Regions from separate parts of the Homo sapiens genome. Here all the other regions are linked to region 1. The links come from fine-mapping of genetic effects on gene expression. A gene starts in region 1. Each other region holds a variant in brackets. All regions are shown on one strand. Distances are from middle to middle.

Evidence for each region. PIP is the estimated chance that this variant, and not a neighbour inherited with it, causes the effect.
Region 2: its variant is fine-mapped to the expression of CCDC144A in visceral fat (GTEx, PIP above 0.99). The same link has a PIP of 0.9 or more in atrial appendage, esophagus mucosa, esophagus muscle, fibroblasts, lung and sigmoid colon.
Region 3: its variant is fine-mapped to the expression of CCDC144A in whole blood (TOPMed, PIP above 0.99).
Region 4: its variant is fine-mapped to the expression of CCDC144A in whole blood (TOPMed, PIP above 0.99).
Region 5: its variant is fine-mapped to the expression of CCDC144A in subcutaneous fat (GTEx, PIP above 0.99). The same link has a PIP of 0.9 or more in atrial appendage, breast, cerebellar hemisphere, esophagus mucosa, esophagus muscle and fibroblasts.
Region 6: its variant is fine-mapped to the expression of CCDC144A in whole blood (TOPMed, PIP above 0.99).
Region 7: its variant is fine-mapped to the expression of CCDC144A in skeletal muscle (GTEx, PIP above 0.99). The same link has a PIP of 0.9 or more in atrial appendage, breast, esophagus mucosa, esophagus muscle, fibroblasts and lung.

Annotation. Positions count from the first base shown.
Region 1 is chr17:16,688,135-16,692,200 of GRCh38, forward strand. It overlaps CCDC144A (coiled-coil domain containing 144A), which reads left to right and starts at 2,107. Exons shown (of 17, transcript NM_001382000.1): 1 at 2,107-2,610. The coding sequence starts at 2,267. It also overlaps the pseudogene RNU6-405P. RefSeq lists an enhancer at 1,097-2,000.
Region 2 is chr17:16,757,527-16,761,592 of GRCh38, forward strand. CCDC144A (coiled-coil domain containing 144A) reads left to right here. Exons shown (of 17, transcript NM_001382000.1): 13 at 3,899-4,066. Among named protein-coding and RNA genes, the nearest start is that of FAM106C, 29 kb to the right of the region's middle. The variant C/T (reference allele first, on the strand shown) is at 2,065.
Region 3 is chr17:17,573,526-17,577,591 of GRCh38, forward strand. It overlaps PEMT (phosphatidylethanolamine N-methyltransferase), which reads right to left. Exons shown (of 7, transcript NM_148172.3): 2 at 3,395-3,502. Among named protein-coding and RNA genes, the nearest start is that of PEMT, 16 kb to the right of the region's middle. RefSeq lists an enhancer at 3,076-3,821. The variant T/A (reference allele first, on the strand shown) is at 1,594.
Region 4 is chr17:17,510,288-17,514,353 of GRCh38, forward strand. PEMT (phosphatidylethanolamine N-methyltransferase) reads right to left here. Exons shown (of 7, transcript NM_148172.3): 4 at 2,222-2,367. Among named protein-coding and RNA genes, the nearest start is that of RASD1, 16 kb to the left of the region's middle. RefSeq lists enhancers at 2,442-3,311, 3,312-4,066. The variant C/T (reference allele first, on the strand shown) is at 2,292.
Region 5 is chr17:16,768,953-16,773,018 of GRCh38, forward strand. It overlaps CCDC144A (coiled-coil domain containing 144A), which reads left to right. Exons shown (of 17, transcript NM_001382000.1): 16 at 3,025-3,067. Among named protein-coding and RNA genes, the nearest start is that of FAM106C, 18 kb to the right of the region's middle. The variant G/A (reference allele first, on the strand shown) is at 2,437.
Region 6 is chr17:17,674,386-17,678,451 of GRCh38, forward strand. It overlaps SMCR2 (Smith-Magenis syndrome chromosome region, candidate 2), which reads right to left and starts at 3,303. Exons shown (of 4, transcript NR_131243.2): 1 at 3,190-3,303; 2 at 1,825-1,986; 3 at 981-1,137. RefSeq lists an enhancer at 1,019-1,647. The variant C/T (reference allele first, on the strand shown) is at 1,658.
Region 7 is chr17:16,774,471-16,778,536 of GRCh38, forward strand. It overlaps CCDC144A (coiled-coil domain containing 144A), which reads left to right. Exons shown (of 17, transcript NM_001382000.1): 17 at 1-3,411. Among named protein-coding and RNA genes, the nearest start is that of FAM106C, 12 kb to the right of the region's middle. The variant G/T (reference allele first, on the strand shown) is at 2,432.

The sequences.
Region 1 (4,066 bases):
CACCCTTAAACTGAGTCTGTTTTCAGACCAGCATCTTCATGCATATATCCTTGTCAGGTCACAGTCTCCACTGCAGCTGCTCTTGCGGGTGGTGCTGGAATTTTCCACAGAGGACTGGGCTCCTGCTGGTTCCTCCGCTGCCCGTGTGCAGCTTTCTTGCTCAGGCCACAGGCTTACGTGAAGATCACCCTTCAAGGCCTACCCAGGACACTGCTGAGCTGTGCAGATGTGCACACGATATGTGCAATGTCATACGTGTGACTAAATGCCAACTGAGACCCCAGAAACCACTCATAGGGGGAATTATGCCAAGATTGAGGAGGCAGGGTGATACTTTTTTTCTTTTTCTGTTTTTTTTTTTTTTTTTTTTTTTGAGATGGAGTCTAGCCCTGTCGCCAGGCTGGAGTACAGTGGCATGATCTTGACTCACTGCAACCTCCACCTCCTGGGTTCAAGCGATTCTTTTGTCTCAGCCTCCCGAGTAGCTGGGACTACAGGCACGTGCCAGCACGCCCAACTAATTTTTGTATTTTTAGTAGAGAACAAGGGGTCACCATGTTAGCCAGGATGGTCTTGATCTCTTGACCTCATGATCTACCTGCCTCTGCCTCCCAAAGTGTTGGGATTACAGGTGGGAGCCACTGCGCCCGGCCACAGATATTTTGTAAATGATTGCTTCCTTACGCCTTTCTAGTTCATGTTTTCTTATACATAGTTACATTTCTTCTTTGCTATACTAAAAATCCCTAATTTTAGTTGGTCAGAGAGAGGGATTTGAGACTGAGCTCCCATCTCCTCGGCTGCAGCATCTGATTAAAGCCTTCTTCCTTTGCAATACTCATCTCAGTGATTGGCTTTCTGTGGGTGAGCAGCGCAGGATCTAGGCTGAAGCCCTGAGGCTTCAGTGACAAAATCTGTTTTTCATAATGCTATCTGTCTTAATTGTCCTCAAGAATTAGTATTTGAGTGCTCTCTAGATTCTCCTTTGTCACCCTTCCTTCCTTTCTTTCTTCCTTTCTTCCTTCCTTCTTTCCTTCTCTTTGCTTCGTTCTCTCCTTCCTTCTTTTCTTTCTTTTTTTGAGACGGAGTCTTGCTCTGTCGCCCAGGCTGGAGTTTGGTGGCACGATATCAGCTCACTGCAACGTTCACCTCCCGGGTTCAAGAGATTCTCCTGTCTCAGCCTCTGGAGTAGCTGGGACTACAGGCACGCGCCACCACGCCCAACTAATTTTTGTATTTTTAGTAGAGAGGGTTTCACCATGTTGGCCAGGCTGGCCTCAAACTCCTGACCTCAAGTGATCTGCCCGCCTCAACCTCCCAAAGTGCTGGGATTACAGGTGTGAGCCACCGCGCCTGGCCGTCACTTTTCTTCAATCTCACTGGTGCTCGCGGGCTGAAGGGTCAGGACGGACTAGAGGCGAGCAATCCTGGTGGCACCAGGCGTTCCCCGACCCGCCCGGGTCGCCAGCTGCACGGACCCTGGGCAGATGCGCGCAGCGGCTGCGGCACACGGCGGGGAGCGGCTGCTTGGCCCCATCCTAAGGCAGCAGAATGCCCAGAGCTGGTCCCTGGCTCCAGGCGCAGGCCGAGTAGGAGCTGGGCGGGCAGCGGCGTCGGGCAGGCCCTTCCAGCCGGGCTGACAGGCCGCTCTGACCCAGCCATCTGACTCCGCTTGCGTCCTGGCAGCGCGGACCCTAGGGCAACTTTGCTGCAGTGGCCAAGCCGGGGGCGGAACTGACCCGTACCCCTGAACCGAGCAAGCCTAGGAGCAGGTGCGCCGGCGGCGCTGTGAAGCGGCACTCATGACAGGCAGGCTGGGCACCGCCACCCCGAAACCTCCGAGGGAGGACCAGCCAGCCCAGGTTGGCGCTGGAGCTGCAGCGCCACCTGCAGGCCAAGGAGTCTTTTTCTGGGAGGCTGGAGCTGCAGCGCCACCTGCAGGCCAAGGAGTCTTTTTCTGGGAGGCTGGAGCTGCAGCGCCACCTGCAGGCCAAGGAGTCTTTTTCTGGGAGGCTGGAGCTGCAGATGCAGTGAAGTCACAGGTTCCGTGATGTCACAGGTGGGCAGGCGCACTGGTCTGTAACGGATTGGCTTGGCCTTACCCACGAGGCTTTGCGGTGGCTGTTGGCTTGGCGGTGGTCGCTTGGCTTGGCGTGGCAGTGATCGCTTGGCTTGGCATTTCTGGCTTGGCGGTCCTCCTTTCGCAGATTGGAAACCGCGGGCTATCCTGCTGGGAGGTTGTGGCCGAGGCAGTAGCTCGCTACTGATGGCCTCCTGGGGTGGAGAAAAGCGGGGAGGGGCTGAGGGGTCTCCGAAGCCGGCAGTCTACGCCACGAGGAAGACCCCTAGCGTCGGGAGCCAGGGGGACCAGTGGTACTTGGGCTACCCGGGGGACCAGTGGTCCTCGGGCTTCCCCTACAGCTGGTGGAAAAACAGCGTCGGCAGCGAGAGCAAGCACGGTGAGGGCGCCTTAGACCAGCCCCAGCACGACGTCCGCCTGGAAGATCTTGGCGAGCTCCACAGAGCTGCCCGGTCGGGCGACGTCCCTGGGGTGGAGCACATCTTAGCTCCTGGAGACACTGGCGTGGACAAGAGGGATAGGAAGAAGAGGTAATGGCCAGGCGAAGGATGCGCCGTCCTGTCGGGGACACTGGCTTTCTGGTGCCCGCAGGCCCCACGGCACCCGGGATGGGGAAACGTCAGAGGGGTCAGGGGCCCAGGCCTCTTAGTGAGACGGGATCAAATATAAAGGATTATTACTATTGCAAAAGTGTTGGTCTACTTTACAGGAGTTTTCTTTAAAAATATTGCACTTCCCAACTGTGTTTATCCATTTTCTCAATTTATTCATCAAACATAAGCTGAATACCTATTATACAGCAGACATATTCTACTGTCGCTCAGGTTCCTTCCATCCTTAAGAACTTCATGTTGGCCGAGCTCGGTGGCTCATGCCTGTAATCCCAGCACTTTGGGAGGCCGAGGAGGGCAGATCACGAGGTCAGAAGTTCGAGACCAGGCTGACCAACATGGTGAAACCCCGCCTGTTATGCTTTTGTCTCAGCCTAGACTTAGCTAAGACCTTCATGATAAATTATCCTTTAGGCCCTCGGGGTTCAGTTCAAATAATGTTGCAGAAAGAGAGGAGTTTCCTTTTTTCATTGCTACCAGATCTGTATGCTGAGGACCCTTTTCTTAGATCGTGGAATGTCCCATATTATCCTTTCCCAGATTTGTGGCAGGAAGCCATCACCAGAATTCTGAGTCTCAAGTATGTTAGTTGGATTTAACAGAGCTAAGTCTCATCCATGACTCATGAATATCCATGTATAAAATGAGAGCTTTGGCAGGGTGCAGTGGCTCATGCCTGTAATCCCAGCAATTTGGGAGGCTAAGGTGGGCGGATCACGAGGTCAGGTGATTGAGAGCATCCTGGCTAACACGGTGAAACCCCGTCACTACTAAAAAATACAAAAAAAAAATAGCCGGGCGTGGTGGTGGGCGCCTGTAGTCCCAGCTACTCAGGAGGCTAAGGCTGGAGAATGGCATGAACCCAGGAGGCGGAGCTTGCAGTGAGCCGAGATCGCGCCACTGCACTCCAGCCTGGGTGACAGAGCGAGACTCAGTCTAAAACAAACAAACAAACAAACAAACAAACAAAACTTGCTTCAGCAGCAAACATATACTGAAATTGGAACAAAATGGAGAGAAATTAGCATGGCCCCTGCCTGCATAAGGATGATGCACAGATTTTTGAAGTGGTCCATATTTTGCGCAGTCACTAGAAGTTCATTTGACTATTTGCTGACTAGTTCCAAAGACAGTGTGAGTCAAAGCAAACTGGGTATCACCTAATATTAAAATTGTGATTTTTCACTACAAAAATATGCAGTAAGGTGATCAATGGAGCTGAGTAACACGTGGGATGTTGTGTGCAAATATATTGTCAGTATGTATCTCAGAAATGAGAGAATGTCAACTTGCATGTCTTTCATGGAACTGAAAAAGAAAAGTAGCATTTTGTTTTCCATGTCAGTTGGAGATGAACATGGGGATTGAGCATCCT
Region 2 (4,066 bases), 69 kb after region 1:
ACAGTGTATGTGAGCACTGATAGCAACAATAGCAGCAGCAAGCAAAGTGGCCTTGTCTTCAGGCTCTCATATGGCTCACATGGGCGCCACCCCTGGTGGGCTTGACAGGCTTGTTCTCAGGCTCCTGCATGGTACACTTGAGTGGGCCAGTCCTCCGGCCTCCTAAAGGTATGTACAGGTATGCACAGCACTGCCCCTGAAGGGGATAGGGCTGCTGGTGGTGGCAGTGGTGTCAGTCAGGTGGCTCCTAGGCTCTAGACAGCACACACTTAGGATCCCTTTGACCTAGAGTAGCTTCCCTGGTGGGCTATTAGATGACCACCTATTTCCACAGGTATATGGTGCTGTGGGGCTAGGGATTTGGGGGAATCGGTCCTGGTTTTGAGATGATCCTGGTTGGGCTGGCTACCTCAGTTCCCTTTCCTTCTGTCATCAGAGGATCCCTATCAATTTCCTGCTGAATTCCAGTATACTCTCTTTGATGTTTTCCTCAAGGTGTGGTTACCTACTTGCTGTTTTGGTTTTTCTTTTTGAAAGAGGTGAGTGCTGGGTATTCCCAGTCAGCCATCTCGATGATGTCTCTGTCTATGCTGTGCATATTAAGGAATGTATAGACGTGTTTTAAAACCTGCACAATTGACCCTATAACTATAATTTAAAAGATTTCTACCACTTGAAAAACACACTAATTTCTAATTATTACCTCTCACCCCACACACAGGTTTTATTTAATATGGCAGAAGACTCAGGCTTAAAGTGCAAGATCCTAACCTCCCATCACACACACACAAGTTTCATTTAATATGGCAGCAAGCTCAGGCTTGAAGTGCAAGATCCTACCATCTTTATCACAGACGGTAGGGATGCACCCTGGGTTGTGGTTTCTGCGGTATAACCCCTTGAGTGCATTTCTTGTCAACACAAAGACGTAAGAACTAAAGGGACAACTTGTCTACCACTCACCCACCCAGCATTCTCCTAAACTGCCAGAGACCCTCCTATTGAACAGAGAGAAAATGGGAGTCACAAAGGGAATATTAGACCATAGAAATTCTGAAATACAGCCTGATGTGTGCTTCCACTTACTTGATTTGGACTTCATGGGAACCATCCTCTGTGGCTTTTTGTGGTACCTTCTTGGCTCTTTGTTGTATCCTTTTCATAAGCAATGACCTGTGTTTTCAGCTAAGTAGTTTCTTCAGCCAGCTTCCTCCCTGTAGAAGCTCTTAGGTCCTAAGGCCTCTTTTCATTTTTACTGTCTTGTTGTCTTTTAAGCCAAGCTAGCAAGCAGTGCTATTGTTACTATAATTCTCTTAGAGTCTCTTGTGAATTTTACTTGAGTTCTTGTCATTGGAAAAACCACTTGTCCCAATCTCTTTGAGATAAGCACTTCACCTTGTGCTTCCTGTGAAGGAAGCACACTGTTCTGTGTAGTACGACAGTGCCTTAAGATGCGTATACCCTTAAGATCTTTAAGGGAATTTGAGGCACCACCTTAAATCTTTCTAAGGTCTTAAAATAGAGCCTTACACTGACAGTCTTGGCTTCACCTTCAGACTTTCTCCTGGCAGCACCCTGGATTTGATCTTATCTCAGAGGCCATTTATCTCAGCAATACAGATGCTCCTCAGATTAGGATGGGTTTATGTCTGGATGGCATTTGCATTTGTTATGTCTGATATTTGTAATTTATAGGCCATCATAAATTGTAAATATCAGAAGTTATGGGTGGGTTTTCCATTTACGATAATTTCCATTTACAGTGACTTTATCCTGATGTAACCACCCCTGTAAGCCAAAAGGCTTACACATATCATGTCATTACTCAACACATATCATTTTCACAGTATTATAAAAAGTCAGAAAATGGTGAGTCGAACCATGCTAAGTCAAGGACTGTCTATATTTGGGAATCTGACATGTGGAGAGGCTATAAAAAGGATACTGAACCTAGAAAGTCCTGGTTCTTTTATATGTAGTAGTCTTTCTTTAGCTTATCTCTTGCATTGGTTTTACTTTCAGCGGCTGTGTAGTAACAGTGCCCTTTCCTTCAGGTTCCCGTAT[C/T]GTTTTCTTCACTATCCTGGAGCCCTTCCTACCAGCTTCTTCGAGGACCATCAGGCTTCCACTAACAGTCTCTTTAAAACTCTTCTTGTTTTTGTGCTTATTCTTCTGTAGGTCCTTTCAGCTTCTGATTAGCTCCTGGTCCAATGGTAATCCTACATGTTTTAGTAGTTTTTGTTGTGTTGTTGTTGTGCAATCTATATGTAGTGTCAATATCTGTATCAGTTATTTCTTGGTATATAACAAAATGCAGTGTCTCAAAACAACATCTATTTTGTTCACAATCTGCAGTTTTAGGCAAGGCTCAGTGGGGCCAACTCCCTTTTTCTTTACTTGGCATCAGCTGAGGTGACTTAAAGCTGGGGACTAGAATCATCTAAAGGCTTGTTTATTTACCTGTGCGGCATTCGAAGCTGGCTTTTGGCTGGGACGTTAGGTAGGGAAGTCAGCTCGAACACCTACCTACATGAGGGTTCATGGTATGGTTTGGGCTTTCTCACGGCATGTTGGCTGCATTTTAAGGACAAGCGTCCCTAGAGAGAGAGTCAGGTAGAAGCTGTGTGACTTTTTGTAACCAACTTTAGAAGTCACACAGCAGTTCTGCCACATTGTGTTCCGGAGAAACCGGTTGTCAATGCCAGCTTGTATTTAGGAGAGGGAATGTCATGGGAGAAGTGGCAAGCAATTTGTAGATGTTTTAAAACCACCACTTCACTTACCTTTATAAAATAAAAAACAATCATAATTATTTCCTCTAAAGGAAAGCAGTTATTTCCAACTCAGCACCATTGAAATTTCAGTGCAATTTTTTGTTGTCATTCTTTAATGTGCTCCCTTATTTTGTGTAAAGTAACAATGAATTACAAGATTGTGCTACTGAATTAAGGCATTTTTCTTCAGAAAAATGGTATGGATCATGCCACTGAACTTTTATACTGGGAGATGTGATTGCTTCTTAACTCCAAGTATCATTACTCTTTGAAATGTAACTCAAATTAGCGTAAGACATTTGCAGTTCAGCAAAAGGCTTATGGTATTGGAATCCTTTTTTTTTTTTCAAAATGTATTAATTAGAGTCTTATTTTCAGAGTCTTATTATGGGAGCCATTTATTGACTCAGGCCCAAATAATTCAATATGATGCCCCTAAAACTTCTCTGCAAATTATGGAGAATGATAGTGGGTTAAAGGAATAAGAGACTTTGTGCTAAAGGGGTAACTTAGAGCCATTTTAAGGAGGAAAGCCATGAAACAGTCATAGGAAAACAGAAGTCTAAGATCAAGTCCAAATGTTGTGTGGCAAAGATGATGAAAGTAAAGGATGTATTTTTGTGAATTCTGGTGGTTTTAACTTTGTTTTTAATTTTCTGAGTAATCCAAGGGTCTGTATTTTATGAATCTACAACAGTATAGGTAACATTTTATTGCAACTGAATTTATTTCAAAAATTATTAGTTTTGGCTGGGCGCGGTGGCTCACGTCTGTAATCTCAGCACTTTGGGAGGCCGAGGCGAGTGGATCATGAGGTCAGGAGATCGAGACCATCCTGGCTAACACGGTGAAACCCCATCTACTAAAAATAAAAAATAAATTAAAAAAAATTTAGCCAGGGGTGGTGGTGGGCACCTGTAGTCCCAGCTACTCCAGCTACGCAGGAGAATGGCCTGAACCCGGGAGGCAGAGCTTGTAGTGAGCCGAGATCCTGTCACTGTACTCCGGCCTGGGCGACAGAGCGAGACTCCATCTCAAAAAAAAAAAAAAAAAAATTATTAGTTTTTTGTTAGACCATTCTCAGTCTACCTTCTTCATTACAAAACTATATTGTTTTACTCATGCAGATTGACCTTACAGAAGCACAGGAAACTGTACCTTCACGATGTCTACATCTGGATGCAGAGAATGAAGTTCTTCAACTTCAACAGACATTATTCTCTATGAAAGCAATACAAAAGCAATGTGAAACACTACAGAAGAATAAGAAGCAGCTGAAACAAGAAGTAGTAAAC
Region 3 (4,066 bases), 890 kb after region 1:
AAATAATACAGTGTAACTACCCAGCATGTACACTGTCTTGGGTATGATAAGTAATCTAGAGATGATGTAAAGTATATGGGAGGGTGGGCATACGTTATACTCGAATACAACATTGTTTCCCATCAGGGACCTGAGCATCTGCCGATTTTGGTATCCACGGGGAACTGGAACCAATCTCCTATGGATACCCAGGGACAACTGCATTGATAACTATTAAGTTATTTAAGTGCTTCCCTGGTTGTGGCCTGTTGGCCTGTCTTTGTTTTTGTTTTTTAAGACAGGGTCTTGCTCTGTTGCCCAGGCTGGAGTGCAGTAGTGTGATCACAGCTCACTGCAGCCTCGACCTCCTGGGTTCAAGTGATTCTCCTACCTCAGCCAACCCAGTAGCTGGGACTACAGGTGCACACCACCACACACGGCTAATTTTTGTATTTTTTGTAGTGGCAGGGTTTTGCCATGTTCCCCAGGATGGTCTCCAACTCCTTGGCTCAACTGATCCACCCACTGGGCTTCTGGCATCACAGAGCTGGGCCTCGTCATCCCATTCCAGATGCCGTCCGGATACTCTCCCCGGCAGCAGCCCACGGAACTGCAACATGTTTCTTAACTTTTCTCCTTTTGAAACCACTTTGAAGAGCTCACTCCCTCTCCCACCAATGACCACAAACTGTTCCAGTGAAAAACTATCTCAAAATGAGACTAATCAAAAGCTTATGACCAAAAAAAAAAAAAAAAAAAAACCGTATGCCAAACACACAGACACATGCTGTCTTCCAAATCTTACTGCATCTTTTTTTTTTTTTTTTTTTTTAAAGACAGAGTCTCACTCTGTTACCCAGGCTGGAGTACAGTGGTGCCATCTCGGCTCACTGCAACCTCCGCCTCCTGGGTTCAAGAGATTCTCCTGCCCCAGCCTCCCGAGTAGCTGGGACTACAGGCGTACACCATCACATCCGGCTAAATTTTTGTATTTTTAGTAGAGATGAGGTTTCACTATGTTGGCCAGGCTGGTCTCGAACTCCTGACCTCAGGTGATCCACCCACCTCAGCCTCCCAAAGTGCTGGGATTACAGGCGTGGGCCACCGCGCCCGGCCAAATCTTACTGCATCTTAACCACTCTGCCATTCATGAGCCACTGAGAACCTTCACAATGAACTTCACTTTAAAAACACACTGTTGGCTAGGCTAGTGGGAAGTGACCTGAGGGGGCTTGTGCATAAATAAAAGCGTCCTCAGGACCTGCTATGCATTCAGCCAGCCAAGCTCCCAGTGCTGGGAGACCCATATGTACCTCAATGACTGCTGGTCAACGTCAGGCCTGCAGGAAGCCAGAGGGCAGGGACCTCCTCCGGCTGTAAGAGCCCAACATCTCCCTCAGAGAAGGACTGTGGACAGCCAAGAGCGTGGCACACCCAACACTCCAAAGGTTAGGCCCACAACGTCTTCCAGCAGGGGTCTTTGGCTTTTTAAATACCCTGGCCTCGCTTCCTGTGGCTGCTGTAACAAATGACTGCCAACTTAGGGGCTGAAAACAACAGCAATCCCCAATCAGTTACCACTGGGCCAAAATCAAGGTGCCGACTGGGCTGTGC[T/A]TCCACCAGAGGCTCTGGGGGAGACTCCATTTTTTGCTTCTTCCAGCTTCTGGTGGGCCTGGCCTTCCTTGGCTAGTGGCTTGGTCACTCCAGCCTCTGCCTCCATGGTGACAAGAGACACTCCTGTGTTTCAATGTCCCTGTGCCACTCCATTGTTAAAAGGACACACACAATGGCACTTAGGGCCCACCTGGGTAACTCAGGGCCATCTCCCCAGCTCAAGCTCCTTGACTTCATCACGTCTGCAAAGATCCTTGTGTGTGTGCCATATAAGAGACCTTCACAGGATGTGGACGTCTTTGCAGGACCATTTTTCAGCCTCCAAACACCCTCCTCACCCTTCACCACCTCATATCTCTGGCATGCTGGGTGTGTGCAAAGGTGAAAGGAGAGAGGAAGCATGCAGGCCAGGCAGTGGGAGGAAACGCCAGGATGGCCAGGCACTTCGGCTGCAGCCCTGGCTCCAGAGGCCCATGTCAGGAGGCTGGGGCCAGCTGGGGACGGTGTGGCTGAGAGTACAGGTGCTCCCCAGCCCAGCCAAGGCTTCTCAGGAGAAAGGGGTGTCCGGGAGGCCTGTGTTTGGCTACACCAAGCTCGCCAGTCTCACTCCCACCTCTGGACCTCCCCTCGAAGCCCCTCCCTTGTGGGCCGCCAGAGCATCCATCCTCGGAGTGTGTCCAGCATGTTCAGGACAGCAGGAACAGGGCATTCTTTGGAATGCACTGTCTTTGACATGAGCAGGCTGGCCCCCACCCACTTCTCTCACCAGATGGAGAAAAATCTCAAGTCATAAACTAAATGAAAAACATGTCCTGTTCTGCCCTGGGATCAAGGGTTCACCTTAAATGAAAACTGTCTGGAACAATGTGCTGCTGACGCTGATCTTGGCCTTACTCTGCAGATTAGCCTCGGGGGTGATCACAGGACGCTCAGGGCTCTGCATCAGCAAGCCCAACCCCCGCTGAGCCCCAGGACCACCCACTCCCCCAGCAGGATCCCCGGGAAGCAGCCCAGAAGCACCCCCCAGAGACAGCCTTGGGAGAGCGGGCCAGGAACCCCAAGAGCTTCACCCCACAGTCTGGGAGGTGTGGGAGGCATCTCAGAAAGGCTGCAGAAGGAACTGACGGCCCTCCCCTCCCACACTTTCCTCGAAGGGCCCAGAGCCCACTTCCCATGCAGTCCACCCACCCCTCGGTGCTGGTGCCCGGGCACCCAAACATCCCCTGGCACCCATCACGAGCTGGTGCCACGCTGGTGGCTTCCTTTCAACTCATGCCGGCTTGCTCCTGCCACCCAGCTCGCCTAGGTCCGGAATGCGCAGGCCGTTTTGCAGGAAGCCTCATGTGGGAAAAATAACCATGTTTGTGGAACACACGAGGGGTGGGAGATTCACAAGCAAGTGGCTTTACTGTGTGACATGGCAGAGAGGGAAGAGAGCCCCTACTTCCTGGGCAACCCACTTCATGCATGAGAAGGCCACCAGACTGCCAGGCACATGTGACCAATGGCAGCCCCACCATGGCAGCGTTCTCCTGCAGGTTCTTGTGAGGGTAGGAGGGCCACCCCTACAGTCCTGGACCATCCTGACGCCAGCCTGGGCAGCCCAATGGCTGCTGGATCCCCAAGGCAAGACGGCAGGAAGCGCCTAGTACTCCACACCAGCCAGCGACAGACACGGGAGGGAAGAGCAGAGCTGTCTGTCTGTCTGGCCAGCCAGCAGCAACCACCGCGATCCCCTGCATGTGGGGCTCACCAAGCAGTGAGATACTCCCGTCTGGACAGTGTCAGGCACATCACTTACCACATTCCAGTAGAGCGGATTGAAGGTGATGGTGATGACGGCAGCCACAAAGCTGGGATCCAGGGGGTCCACGTAGCCCAGCAGCCGGGTCATAACGCAGAAGTCTGCCTGCAGGGACAGAGCTAGCATCAGCACCACCCAGACACAGCAGGGCCTGTGAGCCCCCAGGAGTCGGAGAAAAAGTTACCCTCTGGGAACACACTGGGAGGCCTGGGAACATCCAAGTCCGGCAAAGGTTACTACAGTGTAGTCTCATAAAAGGGAAGATAAAAAGCTGAAACCTAATGAGCTGTGTCATGTCCTGGGAGGGCGGCCGCAGAAATGTGCCTGGATGCCAGATGAGGAAATCAGCACCTCTGAAGAGGGGTGCCTGGCACCCTGAAGGGAGGTGACACCAACCCTGGTGTGACCGAGACCCTCCTGGATGAGGGTTCTCAGAGGCCCCAGAGGAAACCCAAGCAGCTGAGATAAATGTGAAGAGATGCTCAACCTACCAGGAATCAGGTAAAAGCAAATTAAAACAATAGTGGTGTGCCTCTCCTCGCCCACACTCGACAGGGGACAATCTTGAGTGCACACGAGGGTGTGAGTGGGGCGGGGTAAACTGAAAAAGTGTGTGCCCACATCCCGGCCACGCCACCCGCATACGGGGGGCACGTGGACACTGCCCCC
Region 4 (4,066 bases), 820 kb after region 1:
TCACAGTGTCTGTCCCAGGCCCACAGAGGACAGTCCCACTGGACACAGAGTAACCGCTCCATAAAGGGTGTGGCTTCGTTCCTCCCAGCCTTCTGTCCCCAGAAACCCCTCATTTGTCTCTCCTCCCAGAGGACAATGGAGCTTCATCCAAGGCGGAAAGTAGGGCAGCTGCCCGACAATGGGCAGCATGGGCAGGAGGGGTCCAGGAGCTTCATCACCATCTGGGGACACGGGGCAGGGCCCAGGACCACTGGAAAGTTCTTTCTTCCCAGGAAGCAGGAAGTGGGGCACAGGGTGTGCGTAGATGGCACAGAAACCCAATTCGAGCTGAGTCACAGCAGGAAGTGACCACCTTTGCCTACATACCGCGCTGCTGGTCCTCGGTGTTTCTAGGCCATGTCTGCTGGCAGGGCCGCCAGGAGGCTGTGGCCACTGGTGTTTGCAGGCTCCTTCCCTCCCTCTGACTGTCCAGGACCCCCAGCTTGTTCTTCCACTGCTGAGGGGCTCCACCCACCATCCTGGCTCTCCTTACGCTGCCTCTGCAGCCCTCCCTGTCCAGATCCACCCGAGCACTGGCCACTGGAGGGCCCCCGCCGCTGGTCTCCCACAGGACCTGATTGCACAGCCCGGAGTCCCCCTTCCCATGGGGCCCTCACCGCCCTCACATCCTGGAAGGGCCCCTCCACAGCTCCTCCTGAGCCCCACCTCTGATCCTGGCTCCATCGGTCCAACCTCTTCCTTGCTGGGACCCCCCCTATGGCTCCCACCTCTCTGGGGATGGAGCCTCAGCCCCTTGGATGGCCTTCAAGGCCTCGGCTCATCCTCCTGCCCTGTCCCAACCGACAGCACCTGTGCGGCCAGTCCAGCTGCCCCCCACCTCCAGCTGCCAGCTACTCTGCCCTCAACCTCCCTCTCCTTGCACCAAGGCTTTTTTCTCTTTCCTACCTGCCCGCACCTGCCCCCACCTGGCAGATCCAGACGCTCCTGGCTGCTGTCCCCCTTCCTGGACCAAACTCCCTACAGCGTCTGCCTGAGCAGGAAGCACTGAACTGCCTGTGGGTGCCCCCCACAGTCCCAGAGAGGCCTGGCCATGGGCGATCCAGAATGCTGCACCCACAGATGCCACTTCCTCCCTCGGGGGGACCCCTACTGGCAGGCACAAGCTCCTTGAGAACTTGGAGTGCCCTGTGACAGCCCACGGTGCCCTGGGGGCTGGGCCCAAGGAGCTGTAGCCGGCATCTGAGGATGGGGATGGCAGGCAGGCCCGGGAGCTCCTCAGGACACCGTTGGTCCCAGGAGGCTACTGAGGCCACTGAAGCCGAGTGACTTCCAAGCTCCTGCACTGGCCAGGGCTGATGGGGAGGAAGACGTGGGCCTTCCCACCCATGACGGAGAGCGGGCAATGCGGCCAGCTGGACCAACTCCCTGCTCACTGGGAGGGGCTCCCCTTGGACAGGGACTGCCTCCTTCTCTCCTTCCAGGTTCCGAAGGCCCCCTCTTGTCCCCCACCCCTGCCCCCATCTCCCCTCCCACCCCGACCCCTACTGCCTTTCCCATGGCTGCTTTTCTTTCCCAGATTCCAAGGAGCTGGAAGTTGCTGCCATCATCAGGGTCATTGGTGGGCGTCTAGCCAGGCCAGCACTGGGCTCACAGCCTGAAAGCACCTCAGCCACAGGCAGAGGGAAATGGAGAAGGGATAAGGTGCCTCCACCCCTCACCCCTCCCCAGACCTACACCAGCCCTGCCTGCGGCCAAACACGGCACAAACCACAATCCTGCCTGGCCTGAGAGCCACGCGTGCCGGGAGCTGCCAGAGAGGTGGCTGACTCACCACCACCTCAGGCTTCTGTGCAACAAGGCCTGAGAGTCTTCTGCAAGGGGGAGCTGGTGCTGGAGCTGGACTCAAGGAGTCCTGCACCCAGCCCGGGCCGCAGAACGGGCATTGAGTGCATCTTCATTAGCTGGAGAGAAGCAGCAGGAGCTGCCTTCACTCCCCAGGAGGCAGCCGCTCAGCACGCTGGGGTAAGAGGAGCTGTTGGAGCCCAGCCTCCTGTTCTAACCACAGACAAGCCAGGCCTGGAGGAGCAAAGACGCCCCGATGGAGGGGGCCCCTAGCACTCCCACCGATGTCACGGATAGCAGGGCAGCAGCCACCTGGCCCTGCACCTCCCTGGGGCTCCAGCGGTCCTGCTCAGGGTCACCCCAGCCCTCAGGGTCTTACCTAGGAAAGTTCCAGCGAACCCCAGTGCAAAGAAGCTGGAGAGCACGAGCACGACGCCCAGTCCCAGGAG[C/T]GCGAGGCCCAGGCTGTAGGCCGCGGGGGTGTCCAGGCTCTCCATCCTGGGCTGGCTCAGCATGGCCTGCGTGAAGCTGTGGGCAGGGGATGGAGAGGGAGGACGTCATGGCCAGGGAGGATGTCACAGCCCGGGAGGAGGCCGACCTCATCTTCTCGCCCTCTCCCCAGGGACCCTTAGAGAGTAGCCAGCCCAGGGCTGCCAGGCCAGGCAGGCAGCAGGTGGGGTCCAGTCCACCTGGGAGGTGGGTGACAGTAACAGGGAGGGGCCCAGGCCTGTCAGATTTTTAAATTTTTTCAAGAGAAGCCAGAAATCCTGACTCGTATGTGAAATATCCTAATTTTTAGAAATAGACAATTCATGAAAGCCACTTTAGACCCTGCATGTGAGCAGGCTGGATTCAGCCCGAAGGCCACCAGCTTGCAAACTCTCATCCTGTCCAATGAGCAACTCATACTATGGAGGAAAGTGAGGCTCAGGAAAGACGCAGGTGCCAGGTTGCAGGGCAGGCCCAGGTGTCCCATTCCCCAACAGACTCAGTGCCCCGAGGCCTGGGGCATGCTCTGTGCTAGGGATTGCGCTTCCACAGCCCCTGTGGGTCTGGCCACATCCTGGGTGGCTTGACTTGCATTTAAAGGCACTTTGGGGGCCCTTAATGTCCTCCTCCACACCTGAATTCCCCCACTAGGCTCCCTTTGGGGCCAAACCACTGAAGGCCTTGTAAAAAGGTAGTGGGGTCCAGGTGTGGTGGCTCACGCCTGCAATCCCAGCACTTTGGGAGGCCGAGGTGGGCGGGTCACCTGAGGTCAGGAGTTCAAGACCAGCCTGGCCAACATGGTGAAACCCTGTCTCTACCCAAAATACAAAAATTAGCTGGGTGTGGTGGTGGGCACCTGGAATCCCAGCTACTTGAGAGGCTGGGGCACAAGAATCGCTTGAACCCAGGAGGCGGAGTTTGCACACCACTGCACTCCAGCCTGGGCAATAGAGCGAGACTTAGTATCAAAAGAAAAAAGAAAAAAAGAAAAGGCAGTGGCGTGACCAAAAGGGGGTGACTATGACAGCAGTGGGTCTAGAGGCTCAGGTTCTCCAGTTGGCTCCGGAGAACTGAGGGGCTGGTGCAGGGAGGGCACAGGGGCTAGGCATGTGCTGATGTACCCAGGCCTCATCACAGGGGAGCGGGCGCTGGTGGGAAGGGGGCCCTGGGTGCTAGATGAGAGGCACACTCACAGGAAAGGCTGTGTGTGGGAGCACGGACATGTGTGACCAAATGTGCTCTTCCCATGCTCACAATAATCACAACACAGAAGAGACATGGAGATCTGCTACCTCACGCAGGGCAGCGCCTTTCACACCCAGTCTGTAGACGGCATCTCCCAGCAGGGCCAGCTTACCATCCACCCCACCACCCATCCTTCCTCCATCCATCTATCCTCTATGCACCCACACATCCATCCATCTGTCCAGCTATCCATCCTTCCATCCATCAATGTATCCTCTATCTGCCCACACAACCATCCATCCATCCACCATGAAGTATCTTTGTTTGCTAGGCTCTTTCAAGCAGATTGAAGCCCCCATCTTCATCCACTCGTTCCATTCATTGGTGAATTCAGATTGTTGTGAAACTCCTTATGCTGAGCTAAGGACATACAGACATGTCTTTATGCCTCCCTGGAACTCCTTCCTCCAGCTTGACTGGGAGCTCTTGGGGAACAGAAGTTGCTCCTCCTTCCCTGCGTATCCCCCCAGCACTTGGCCCAGGCCACAGAATG
Region 5 (4,066 bases), 81 kb after region 1:
TCCTTCCCTTCTGAGTTCAGAACACAGGAGTCAGATAGATGGACATCAACACACTAGCTCTATTGCAGACTCATGATAACTAATGGGAGGATGTGGCTCAGATGTGCAGCCACAGTATTTTATCCCAGATTAGGCACTAATCCACAGAGTTTTAAGTGGAGAAAACAAATGCTTGACACCCATCGCAGGTGCATGCTGCTTACTGCAGAGATGACAGCAGACCTGAACTCATGTCACTGTGGGCAGACACATCTTTTGAAAGAGACCCTGAGCCAAGCAAGCACACTGTGTGCTTTGCCCAAATTCACCCATTAGGTAGATCTGATATCCTCTCAAGAGGAAGCTGTAGGTAGAGAGAGTCTAAGTCCTCATTTGAAACCTGAGGCCAGGAAAATGAAGGTTCTCCTATCATTTATGGCTGGATTTAAGTGATAATTGAAATTAATCCCATGTCTTTGTATGTACAAATTAATGATGAGAAGTTGGACAGGCGTATGGTAGATGGTAAAGAGAAATCTGTTTTGTGTTTTCAGTTTTTCTATAAATAACTCACAACATGGATAATTGACTTGATTGATTTTCCTAAACCACGTCTTATTTGGAGGAGAATGAATAGTTCTTTTAAGGAACAGTTTTCTTAATTTCTGCTTGCTTGGTTCAACTAAAGATTTTCTCCTTCAAGTTTTCTGTTCTGCGGTTTGAAAAATGGGTTCTTTATAAATTGAGTGTCTTGACTGGTACTAGCCAGAAGTTATGATATTAATTGTTCTTTAAATTTGATTCATAACTTACAATTTGGAGAGCTACTATTTTTTGTCTCATGCTTAAACATTATAGAGCATCATGACAGTTTATAGATGCATTTTCTCTTTTTTGTTGTTGTTGTTGTTTTTGAGGCAGAGTCTCACTCTGTCTCCCAGGCTGGAGAGCAGTGGCGTGATCTCTGCTCACTGCAACCTCTGCCTGCCGGGTTCAAGCGATTCTCCTGCCTCAGCCTCCTGAGTAGCTGGGACTACAGGTGCACACCACCACGCCTGGCTAATTTTTATATTTTTAGTAGAGACGGGGTTTCACCATATTGTCCAGGCTGGTCTTGAACTCCTAACCTTGTGATCCACCCAATTCAGCCTCCCAAAGTGCTGAGATTACAGGCGTGAGCCACCACACCTGGACTGTCTGAGTTATTTTTTTATTTTTATTATTATTATTATTTTTGATGCGGAGTCTGACTCTGTCACCCAGGCTGGAGTGCAGTGGCACGATCTCAGCTCACTGCAAGCTCCGCCTCCTGGGTTCACACCATTCTCCTGCCTCAGCCTCCTGAGTAGCTGGGACTACAGGCGCCCACCACCATGCCCGGCTAATTTTGTGTATTTTTAGTAGAGACGGGGTTTCATTGTGTTAGCCAGGATGGTCTTGATCTTCTGACCTTGTGATCCTCCCGCCTCGGCCTCCCAAAGTGCTGGGATTACAGGTGTGAGCCACCGTGCCCAGCCTGAGTTATTTTTAAAAATCTGTATTTCTTTTCTGAATATGAAGGAAGGTGCTGGCATAGAATAACTCCAGGCTCAGTGAAAGATCTGAAGCCCACTCCTACCTTGTAACTAATTGGTTTTGTGACCTCAGGCAAGCTGCAGTCTCTCCGAGCCTGTTTTGTTTCTTATGTAAAATTAAGGACTTTGACTAAATCAGTGACATTCATACGTTTAAGTAAATCTCTTTTTTTTTTAAGAATGGAACTTTTTTAAATTGCATAAAACCACATTATAGAAAACAGAAGTAGTGCTGCCTGACTAAAGGAAGGATCAGTGCTCTGAAGCTGTGACTTTCTTATCCCTTAATCCTTCAGCATCCTCTGTGGAACCTTAGATTTCTGTGGGACATAGCTTGAAAAGGATCATTTCTTGAATTATTACTTTTATAAGGCCTGGATGGTAATGCTGTTGTCATGTTACCTACTCTATAAAGCCTATCTATAATGTTTTTGTCACAGAAATGTTATGGAAAGGAGTCTCAAAATATTGGTAAACCTGTTAGTAAAAAAAAAAATTGACTTGACACCTAAAATTTCTAAAGGCATTAGATATCATTATCTTTATCACCACAAACTATCTCAGACCCCGTTCTAGGCATTTAGTGAGAGAATACCTATTCTAAAAAAAAATTAAATAAGAGCACTCTAGATAGGGACACTGGCAATAAGTTTGAAATATTCTGACACCTTTCATAATTAAGTAGATAACTATAACTTGTCAGATGCTTAAAAAATGGGTACTAATTTCTGAAAAGAAATCAAAGTTGCAGTTAAATAACTCTAAATTGTTTTCCTAGTTTTTAATTCTAGACACTCATGAATCAAAGAAACTAAGATTGAAAACTGGCTCTAACCTGTATTTATCCTTGTTTTTATGTAAATTTTCTGAAATCTTTGTGTCC[G/A]TATGAATGAAGAAATGTTAATCATAATAGCATAATATTTTTAATCTTTTGCCAGTGGAACTTTCACATGGCATCACAACAATACTGCTTTCTTCAAGTATGTATTAAAGATTCTGTGCTGAATTAATAGCAAAGAACATACTTTGAAATTATTATTTTCTAAAAGTGGAGAATGGGGAGTTCATTGTAAGGAACTATTCATTAAAGTGAAAAACTGGTTAGACCTTGATAAAGGGCAGAGTTTTGATAAGAATGGGAAAGTAATGCATTCATTGCAGAATATGACTTGAATTGTGTAACCTCTGTACTAATAAGGGAAAACATCACACTTTTGAAATGACATAGCTCCAACAGACCAATATTAATTGTACTTTTGTGAGATTAATCTAAACAGCATAACACATATATGTTCTCCATTATCTAAACTTAAAATAGGTAGGAATTTATATGATATTTTTAATTTAAGCAATCTTCAAGTTAGGTCTAGTCTGTAAAAGTATTATTTAAAGGCCGCATTTTGTAATTAATGCTCCTTACCATGATAATGTATCTTCTTAAACGTTATAAATAATATTTGACTTATTTCAGATGCAGCAGAAGTTGCAAAATGATCTAACTGCAGAAGTAGCAGGTATGTTACCAAAATTTATGAATTAAATTTAGATTAAGTAATATATATCTGAAATAAACTGCAAACGACATCCCTTTCCGTTCTTGGGCTAGTAGATACTACATTAAATATTCTTTCATATACATCTAATGAAAGATGTGAAAACTTGAACATGTATAATGAAGAGCATACTTATGCCTCATGAATTCATCACGTTCCATAGCTTGAAAAAAATAGCTCAAGAAGTCTGGCTCTACTCTTCACTTCTGCCATCCCTATGGAATTGTCAGCCAGCACACAGAAACGGTTCTCAGAAAACAGAAGCATCATCAACTTCTCAGGGTTATGGTAGTGATTTTTAAGGCCAAAACATCCCAGTCTCATCTAGTAACCTATTCAAGCAGTTACAGTTTATAAGCAGTCGCTTGAGAGGTAACACTTTAAATCTCCAGTCATTTACAGTGTCATTGGTTTACTTTTGCCCTCAGAAAAAGTTCCAAATTCCTTAACATGTAATATAAACACCCACATTCATTTGGTTCTTGTCAAGTTACTCAGGCTTATCTCTCACCACTTACTTTACTCTGCCCCTTTGCTCTAGGATCCAGCCAAACTGGACTGCACAGAATTCCACAGTGCTCGTCCTTCTCCTCCAGCTCTTTGCACTTGCTTCTTTGCTCTATCTGCCAACCTTTTTTTCTCATCCTTCAGGTATCCACTAACCATGCCTCCACCGAAAAGCCTACAGTATCGAGACAAAACTGGGATAGGTGTCCCTCTTGCATTCCAATAGTGCCCTGTTTTATACCTGTCAGGGTATCTATGACTTGGTATGGAAATTGCCTATTTGTCTGCTTTTTCAGGTTATAGCATATGATTGCTGAGGGGTGGACTGTATCATCTTCATCTTGTAACTCCAGGGCATAGTCTAGTACCTTAGCATGTGGTTGTTGAATAAATGAATGAAGAATGAGAAAACCAGAAGCTGTGATACACAACCACAATGATCATTAATTTAGT
Region 6 (4,066 bases), 990 kb after region 1:
GGCCAAAGAAGGCAGATCACTTGAGGTCAGGAGTTCAAGACCATCGTGGCCAAAATGGTGAAACCTTGTCTCTACTAAAAATATAAAAATTAGCTGGGTATAGGGGTGGCCACTTGTAATCCCAGCTACTCAAAAGGCTAAGGCAGGAGAATTGCTTGAACCCAGGAGGCAGGAGTTGCACTTAGCCGAGATCATGCCATTGCACTCCAGCCTGGGTGACAAGAACAAAACTCCATCTAAAAAAAAAAAAAATAAAATAAATAAATAAATTTCATCATAAGTTTTGGAGGGGACAGTCAAACCATAACACTAAGTATTAGCACATTAATCTAAGAATTAGCATATTAACCTAAATGTTGTTTGTGGAAGATAAAATGTGTATATTTTCATAGTTTAAATTTCATTTTTCAAAACAAAATTCCAATTAAACATTTTTTTCCCAATTACTAAGAAATGTTGGTTCCCAGAGCTTTGACTTGTGGTCAAAGTGGTCTTTTTCTTGGGATAATGAGACCCTTCTTTAGAGTGGGTTCAATGTCTGTCTCACTTGCCAGACTATGGGGGCTGTGTGGTGGGTCCCACATCATTATTCCTGGAGATGGAATCTAGAATGAGGTTTGGCTCGGCTGCACGCAGTGGCTCATGCCTGTAATCCCAGCACTTTGGGAGGCCAAGGTAGGCAAGGCAGATCACTTAACTCAGGAGTTCAAGAGCAGCCTGAACAACATGGCAAAAACCCATCTCTACAAAAAATACAAAAATTAGCTGGGCGTGATAGCGTGCACCTGTAGTCCAAGCAACTTGGGAGGCTGAGATGGGAGCGGTGCTTGAGCTTGGGAGGCTGAGATGGGAGCGTTGCTTGAGCTTGGGAGGTTGAGGCTGCAGTGAGTCATGATTGTGCCACTGCACTCCAGCCTGGGTGACAGAGTGGGATCCTGTCTGAAAAAAAAATATTGCCTAGAGCTAAGTGGGGCTCTCACCTGCTCCCTCTCTTCTCTCTGCTAGAGACCAGAGGCCTTGAAGGAAGGAAGCCCAAGGGTCTCTCCTGGCTCTGCTTCCCCATCACTGCCTCCACTTCCCCGCATCCCTTTCCCTGGCAGAGGCTTCTTGCCACAGGGCTCTGGGCACTCACAAGACCTACAAAAGAAAGGTTCACATTCACATTTGTCTTCTCTGTAGAAGTGCTGGAGGCTGATGGGGTGAGGGGGAGCAGCAACAGTTGGTGGTCCAGAGTTCTACAATGTTGAACTGTTTTAAATCGTCATAAGCCCAGGAGGCACGGATTGCTACACTCCTCGTTAGAAACCAGAGTCTCAAAGAGGGTGAGGAGGTACCCAAGGCCGTGCTGTTGGTGGCACGGTGGCAGAGCTGGGGCAGGAGTTCTGATTTTCCATCTCATTCCTCTGTTACTGTCTAAGCAGAGAGCCTGGGTGACAGCTACCTACACAGAAGAAGGTATTCTGGGAGAGTTTCCTCCCCTCTCTAGGCCTCTATGTTCTCTGCAAAATGGAGATAATAAGACTGAAATGCACATAGTAGGTGCCAAATAAGTACTAGCTACATGCTTGCTAATGGGAGTCCTCCTGCACACTCACACTCTGCCTGGGCTCTGTAAGAACAGCCCGGAGCCTCCATCCAGTTTTCATCGCAGAGGAGG[C/T]GGGGCGGCAGCGTGGGCAGGAGCTCAGGCCAGGAGAATCCCTACTCTAAGTATGACTGTGTGATCTTGGGCAAGTGACTTCATTCCCTAAGTGTGTTTCCTCATCTGAACAAGGAGGCTATTGAAATGCAGGTGAGACCTAGTGAGACAGCGGCTGCGGGAATCACCTGGCCACAGTAAACGCCCTTGCATCCTATTGAGTGAGCCAAGGATAAGCGTGGTCCCTGGCAGGGTGCAGGATTCTATCCTGAAATACACCCCCTCCACTTTCTCCTATTCCAGTCCACCGGGGCCTCTCCTCCAGGCAGGAAACATGATCTCCTTTTGACCTATGAGAAAACAGACAGGAAGTTCAAGGCCACACAGATGTGAGTGTTAAGAACCCTGGGGGGAAGGTGTCTGAAACCCAAGGCTGTGTGTGTGTGTGTGTGTGTGTGTGTGTGTATGTGTGTGTGTGTGTGTCGGGGTGTGCTGAGGGGTTGGTCAGCCAGGTGATTTAAATGCGGGTATAGAACAATAGGTAGTGGTGGGGCCCCGAAGAACTTAGATTCCTTAAAGATATTTATTTTCTTTCTCTTTCTCTTTCTCTTTCTTTCCTTTCTTTTCTTGCTTTTCTCTCTCTTATTTTTTTTTTTTGAGATGGGGTCTCACTCTGTCCCCCAGGCTGGAGTGCAGTAGCACTGTCATGGCTCACTGCAGCCTCGACCTCCCTGGCTCAAGCGATTCTCCCACCTCAGCCTTCCAAGTAGCTGGGACTACAGATATGCACCACTATACCTGGCTAATTAAAAACAAAACAAAACAAAACAAAACTTTTTTTTTTGTAGCGATGAGTCTCACTATGTTGCCCAGGCTAGCCTTGAACTCTGGGCTCAAGTGATCCTCCCGCCTTGGCCTCCCAAAGTGCTGGAATTACAGGCATGAGCCACTGCACCTGGCAACGTATGTCAACTTCAAAATTTTCACTTTTTGCTCTGCTTTCCAATCAAAACAAACCTAGCAGCCTGAGTTCGGCCTTTGAGCTGCAAGTTTGAGACTCTGCCCCAACACTGACTTTATTGAGCCTCTGCATTGCATAGCGTGCACACCCCTGCTCACCCTTCTACCTGTGTGCAACTAAGGATGACAAGCAGGGTCAGCAGCAGAAGTGTCTTGGGGCTAGCTCTGCTGACAGTGATCCCTGATCAGTTCCTAGTTCTCTTCTGAGAAGACTGAGCCCTCTCAACCAGCATCATTCAGAGCAGTCTCAGGATGGTTAGGCCTATGGCTGTCCTCCTCTGGAAGGGCCCTCGTTTGTTCAGAAGCCTCCCTGGTTAAAGCAGGCAGAGGAAAATCACTCTTGAAAGCTCAACTCACTAATCACCTCCTCCAGGAAGCCTTCCCTGAATTCCTTGACAGGACTAGGTCATTACTCTGCATGCCTGGGCACCACAGCACTCTTCATGGGTAACTTTCACATTGCAACCCAGGGTCTAACCCAGTGTCTGACCCACAGTGGGCTCTCCATGCATGAAATGGGTGACTAAACTCACCTGCTGTGTGACTTTGGATCAGTGACTTCACCTCTCTGAGCCTTGATTTTCTTATCTGTAAAATGAGTTGAGGCAAGACAGCATTCAGAGGGTCCTTGCAGATGTGATTAAATAAATTAAGAGTCTTCTTGAGATGGAGGGATTAGCCTGGATTATCCAGGTGGACCGGAATGGAATCACAAGGGTCCTCATGAGCAGAGGCAGGAAGGTCAAGGGAGGAAGTAGAAGCTGGGACAATGGAAGCAATTGTTTTCTTGCCTGTTCTAGCTTCTGGAGGTCACCAAGGGGTCACAAGCTGAGAAACACAGGCAACCTCCAGAAATTGGAAAAGGCAAGGAAGAGATTCTCTCCTGGAGGCACCAGGAGAGCTAGCCCAGCCCACACCTTGGCTTTAGCCCAGTGAAACTGATTTTGGAGTTCTGACCTCCAGAACTGTAAAGAATAAATCTGTCTAGGCTGGGCAACATGGTGAAACCCACTCTCCACAAAAAATACAAAAATTAGCTAGGCTTGGTGGTGTGGTATGTGCCTGTGGTCTCAGCTACTTGGAAGGCAGAGGCACGAGAATCACTTGAACCCGAGAGGCAGAGGTTACAGTGAGCCAAGATTGCGCCACTGCACTCAAGCCTGGGCAACAGAGCAAGACTCTGTCATAAATAAATAAATAAATAAATAAATAAATTAATTAATTAATTAATTTGTGTTATTTTAAGCCACTTGTGGAATTTGTTACAACATCCCTAGGCACCTGGCACACAGTAGGTACTCAAAAGTGGCAGTTCTGGTCAGGCGTGGTGGCTCACACTTGTAATTCCAGCACTTTGGGAGGCCAAGGCAGGAGGATCACTTGAGCCCAGAATTCAAGACCAGCCTGGGC
Region 7 (4,066 bases), 86 kb after region 1:
AGTCTGGAACAGTTCCTCAGTTTTTCTTTGACCTTTATGACCTTAAATCTTTTGAAGAGTAAAGTCCAATAATACAGAATGTCCCTCCATTGGATTTCTCTGAACTTTTTTTATGATAAGATTTAGATGATAATTTTTTTTTTGGCAAGAGTATCACAGAAGTTATCCCATGATCTTCTCACTGCATTCTATCAGGTGACCTGCAATTATTATTATTTTTTATTTTCATCTTTTAAGTTCAGGGGTACATGTGCAGGATGTGCAGGATGTCCAGGTTTGTTACATAGGTAAATATGTGCCATGGTGGTTTGCTGCACAGATCATCCCATCACCTAGGTATTAATAATAGCCCAGCATCCATTAGCTGTTCTTCACGATGCTCTCCCTTCTTTCACCCGCCACCATCCCACATGCCCCTGTGTGTGTTGTTCCCCGCCATGTGTCCATGTGTTCTCATTATTCAGCTCCCACTTGTAAGTGAGAGCATGCAGTATTTCATTTTCTATTTCTGCGTTGGTTTGCTGAGGATAATGTTCTGCAGCTCCACCCATGTCCCTGCAAAGGACATGTCTCATTCCTTTTCATGGCTGCATAGTATTCCATGGTGTATATGTACCACATTTTCTTTATCCAGTTTATCATTGATGGGCTTTTAGGTTGATTCTTTGTCTTTGCTATTGTGAATAGTGCTGCAATGAACATACGTGTGCGTGTATCTTTATACTAGAATTAGTTATATTCCTTTGGGTATATACCAAGTAATGGGATTGCTGGGTTAAATGGTATTTCAGGTTCTAGATCTTTGAGGAATCACCACACTGTCTTCCACACTGGTTGAACTAATTTACACTCCTATCAACAGTGTAAAAGCATTCCTGTTTCTCCATAATCTTGCCAGCATCTTTTCATTTTTTTGAATTATAGCCATTCTGACTGTTGTGAGATGGTGTCTCATTGTGGTTTTGATTTGCATTTCTCAGATGATCAGTGATGTTGAAGTTTTTTTGTTTGTTGGCTGCATGTATGCCTTCTTTTGAAAAGTGTCTGTTTGTGTCCTTTGACCACTTTCTAATGGGGTTGAGTTTTTTTTTCTTGTAAATTTGTTTAAGTTCCTTGTAGATGCTGGATATTAGACCTTTGTCAGATGGATAGAGTGCAAAAATTTTCTCCCATTCTGTAGGTTGTCGGTTTACTCTGTTGATAGGTTCTTAATGCTGTGCAGAAGCTCTTTAGTTTAATTAGATCCCATTTGTCAATTTTGGCTTTTGTTGCAATTGCTTTTGGCATCTTCGTCATGAAATCTTTGCCCTTGCCTGTGTCCTGAATGGCATTGCCTAGGTTTTCTTCCAGGATTTTTATAGTTTTGGGTTGTAGATTTAAGTCTTTAATCCATCTTGAGTTAACTTTTGTATATGGGTTAAGGAAGGGGTCCCGTTTCAATTTGCTGCATATGGCTAGCCAGTTCTCCCAGCACCATTTATTAAATAGGGAATCTTTTCCCCATTGCTTCCTTTTGTCAGGTTTGTCAAAGATCACATGGTTGTAGGTGTGTGGTCTTATTTCTGGGTTCTCTATTCTGTTCCATTGGTCTATGTGTCGGTTCTTGTACCAGCACTATGCTGTTTTGGTTACTGTAGTCTTGTAGTATGTTTGAAGCTGGGTAGCATGATGCCTCTAGCTTTGCTCTTCTTGCTTAGGATTGTCTTGGCTATTTGGGCTCTTTTTTGGTTCCATATGAATTTTAAAATAGCTTTTTCTAGGTCTGTAAAGAATGTGAATAGTAGTTTAATGGGCCTAGCATTTAATTTACAGATTGCCTTGGGCAGTGTGGTCATTTTCACGATATTGAACCTTCCTGTCTGTGAGCATATGTTTTTCCATTTGTTTGTGTCATCTCTGATTTCTTTGAATAATGGTTTATAGTTATCCTTGAAAAGGTCCTTCACTTTTCTTGTTAGCTGTATTCCTAGGTATTATACTCTTCTTGTGGCAATTGTGAATGGGAGTTAATTCATGAGTTTTCTCTCGGCTTGCCTGTTGTTGGTGTATAGGAATGCTAGTGACTTTTGCACATTGATTTTGTATCCTGAGACTTTGTTGAAGTTGCTTATCAGCTAAGAAGTTTTTGAGCTGAGATGATGGAGTTTTCTAGATATAGGATCATATCATCTGCAAACAAAGATAGTTTGACTTCCTGTCTTCCTATTTGAATAGCTTTTCTTTCTTTCTCTTGCCTGATTGCCTTGGTGAGAATTTCTAATACTGTGTTGAATAGGAGTGGTGAGAGAGGGCATCTTTGTCTTGTGTCAGTTTTCAAGGGAACGCTTCCAGGTTTTCAGGTACTCAGGCAACAAATAGCGTTACAATAGAATAGTACCTCACATCTCAATGCTAATGTTGAACGTAAATGGCCTAAATGCTCCACTTAAAA[G/T]ATATAGAATGGCAGAATGGGTAAGAATTCACCAACCAAGTTGCTGCTGTCTTCAGGAGACTCACCTAACACATACGGACTCACATAAACTTAAGGCAAAGGGTTGGAAAAAGACACTTCGTCTAAATGGACACATCAAAAGCGAGCAGGAGTAGCTGTTCTTATATCAGACAAAACGGACTTTAAGACAACAGCAGTTTTAAAAAGACAAAGAGGGACATTATATAATGATAAAAGGACTAGTTCAACAGGAAAATATCACAGTCCTAAATATATATGCACCTAATACTGGAGATCCCAAATTTATAAAACAATTACTACTAGACATAAGAAATGAGGTAGTTGGCAACACAATAATAGTGGGGGATGTTAATACTCCGCTGGCAGCACTAGGCAGATCACCAAGACAGAAAGTCAACAAAGAAACAATGGACTTAAACTATACCCTGGAACATATGGACTTAACAGATGCTTACAGAACATTCTACCCAACAAGCATAGAATATACATTGTATACATCAGAACACGGGACATTCTCCAAAATAGACCATATGATAGGGCACAAAACAAGTCTCAGTAAATTTAAGAAAATCAGAATTATATCAAGTACTCTCTCAGACCACAGTGGAATAAAATTGGAAATTAATTCCAAAAGGAACACTCAAAAGCATGCAAATACATGGTAATTAAATAACCTACTCCTGAATGATTGTTGGGTCAACAATGATATCAAGAGGGAAATTTAAAAATTCTTTGAACTGAACGATAATAGTGACACAACCTATCAAAAACTCTGGGATACAGCAAAAGTGGAGCTAAGAAGAAAATTCATAGCATTAAATGCCTATATCAAAAAGTCTGAAAGAGCACAAATAAACAATCTAAGGTCACACCTCACAGAATTGGAGAAACTAGAACAGTCCAAATCCAAACCCAGCAGAAGAAAAGAAATAACAAAATCAGAACAAAACTAAATGAAATTGAAACAAAAAAATACAACAGATAAATGAAAAAGCTGGTTCTTTGAAAAGATAAATAAAATTGATAAGCATTAGCAAGATTAATCAAGAAAAGAAGAGAGAAGATCCAAATAAGCTCTATTAGAAATGAAATGGGAGATATTACCACTGATACCACAGAAATACAAAAGATTATTCAAGACTACTATGAACATCTTCACATCCATAAACTAGAAAACCTACAGGAGATCGATAAATTCCTGGAAATATACAACCCTCCTGGATTAAATTAGGAAGATATAGAGACTCTGAACAGACCAATCAGAAGCAGCAAGATTGAAAATGGTAATTTAAAAATTGCCAACAACAAAAAAGTCCAGGACCAGATGAATTCACACCTGAATTCTATCAGACATTCAAAGAATTGGTACTCATCCTATTAACACTATTTCACAGGATAGAGAAAGAGAAATCTTCCCTAAATCATTTGATGAAACCAAAATCACCATGATATGGTTTGGCTCTGTGTCCCCACCCAAATCTCATCTTTTAGCTCCCATAATTCCCACATGTTGTGAGAAGGACCCAGTAGGAGATGATTGAATCATGAGGGCGGGTCTTTTCCATGCTGTTCTCATGACAGTGAGTGAATGTCACAAGATCTGATGGTTTTAAA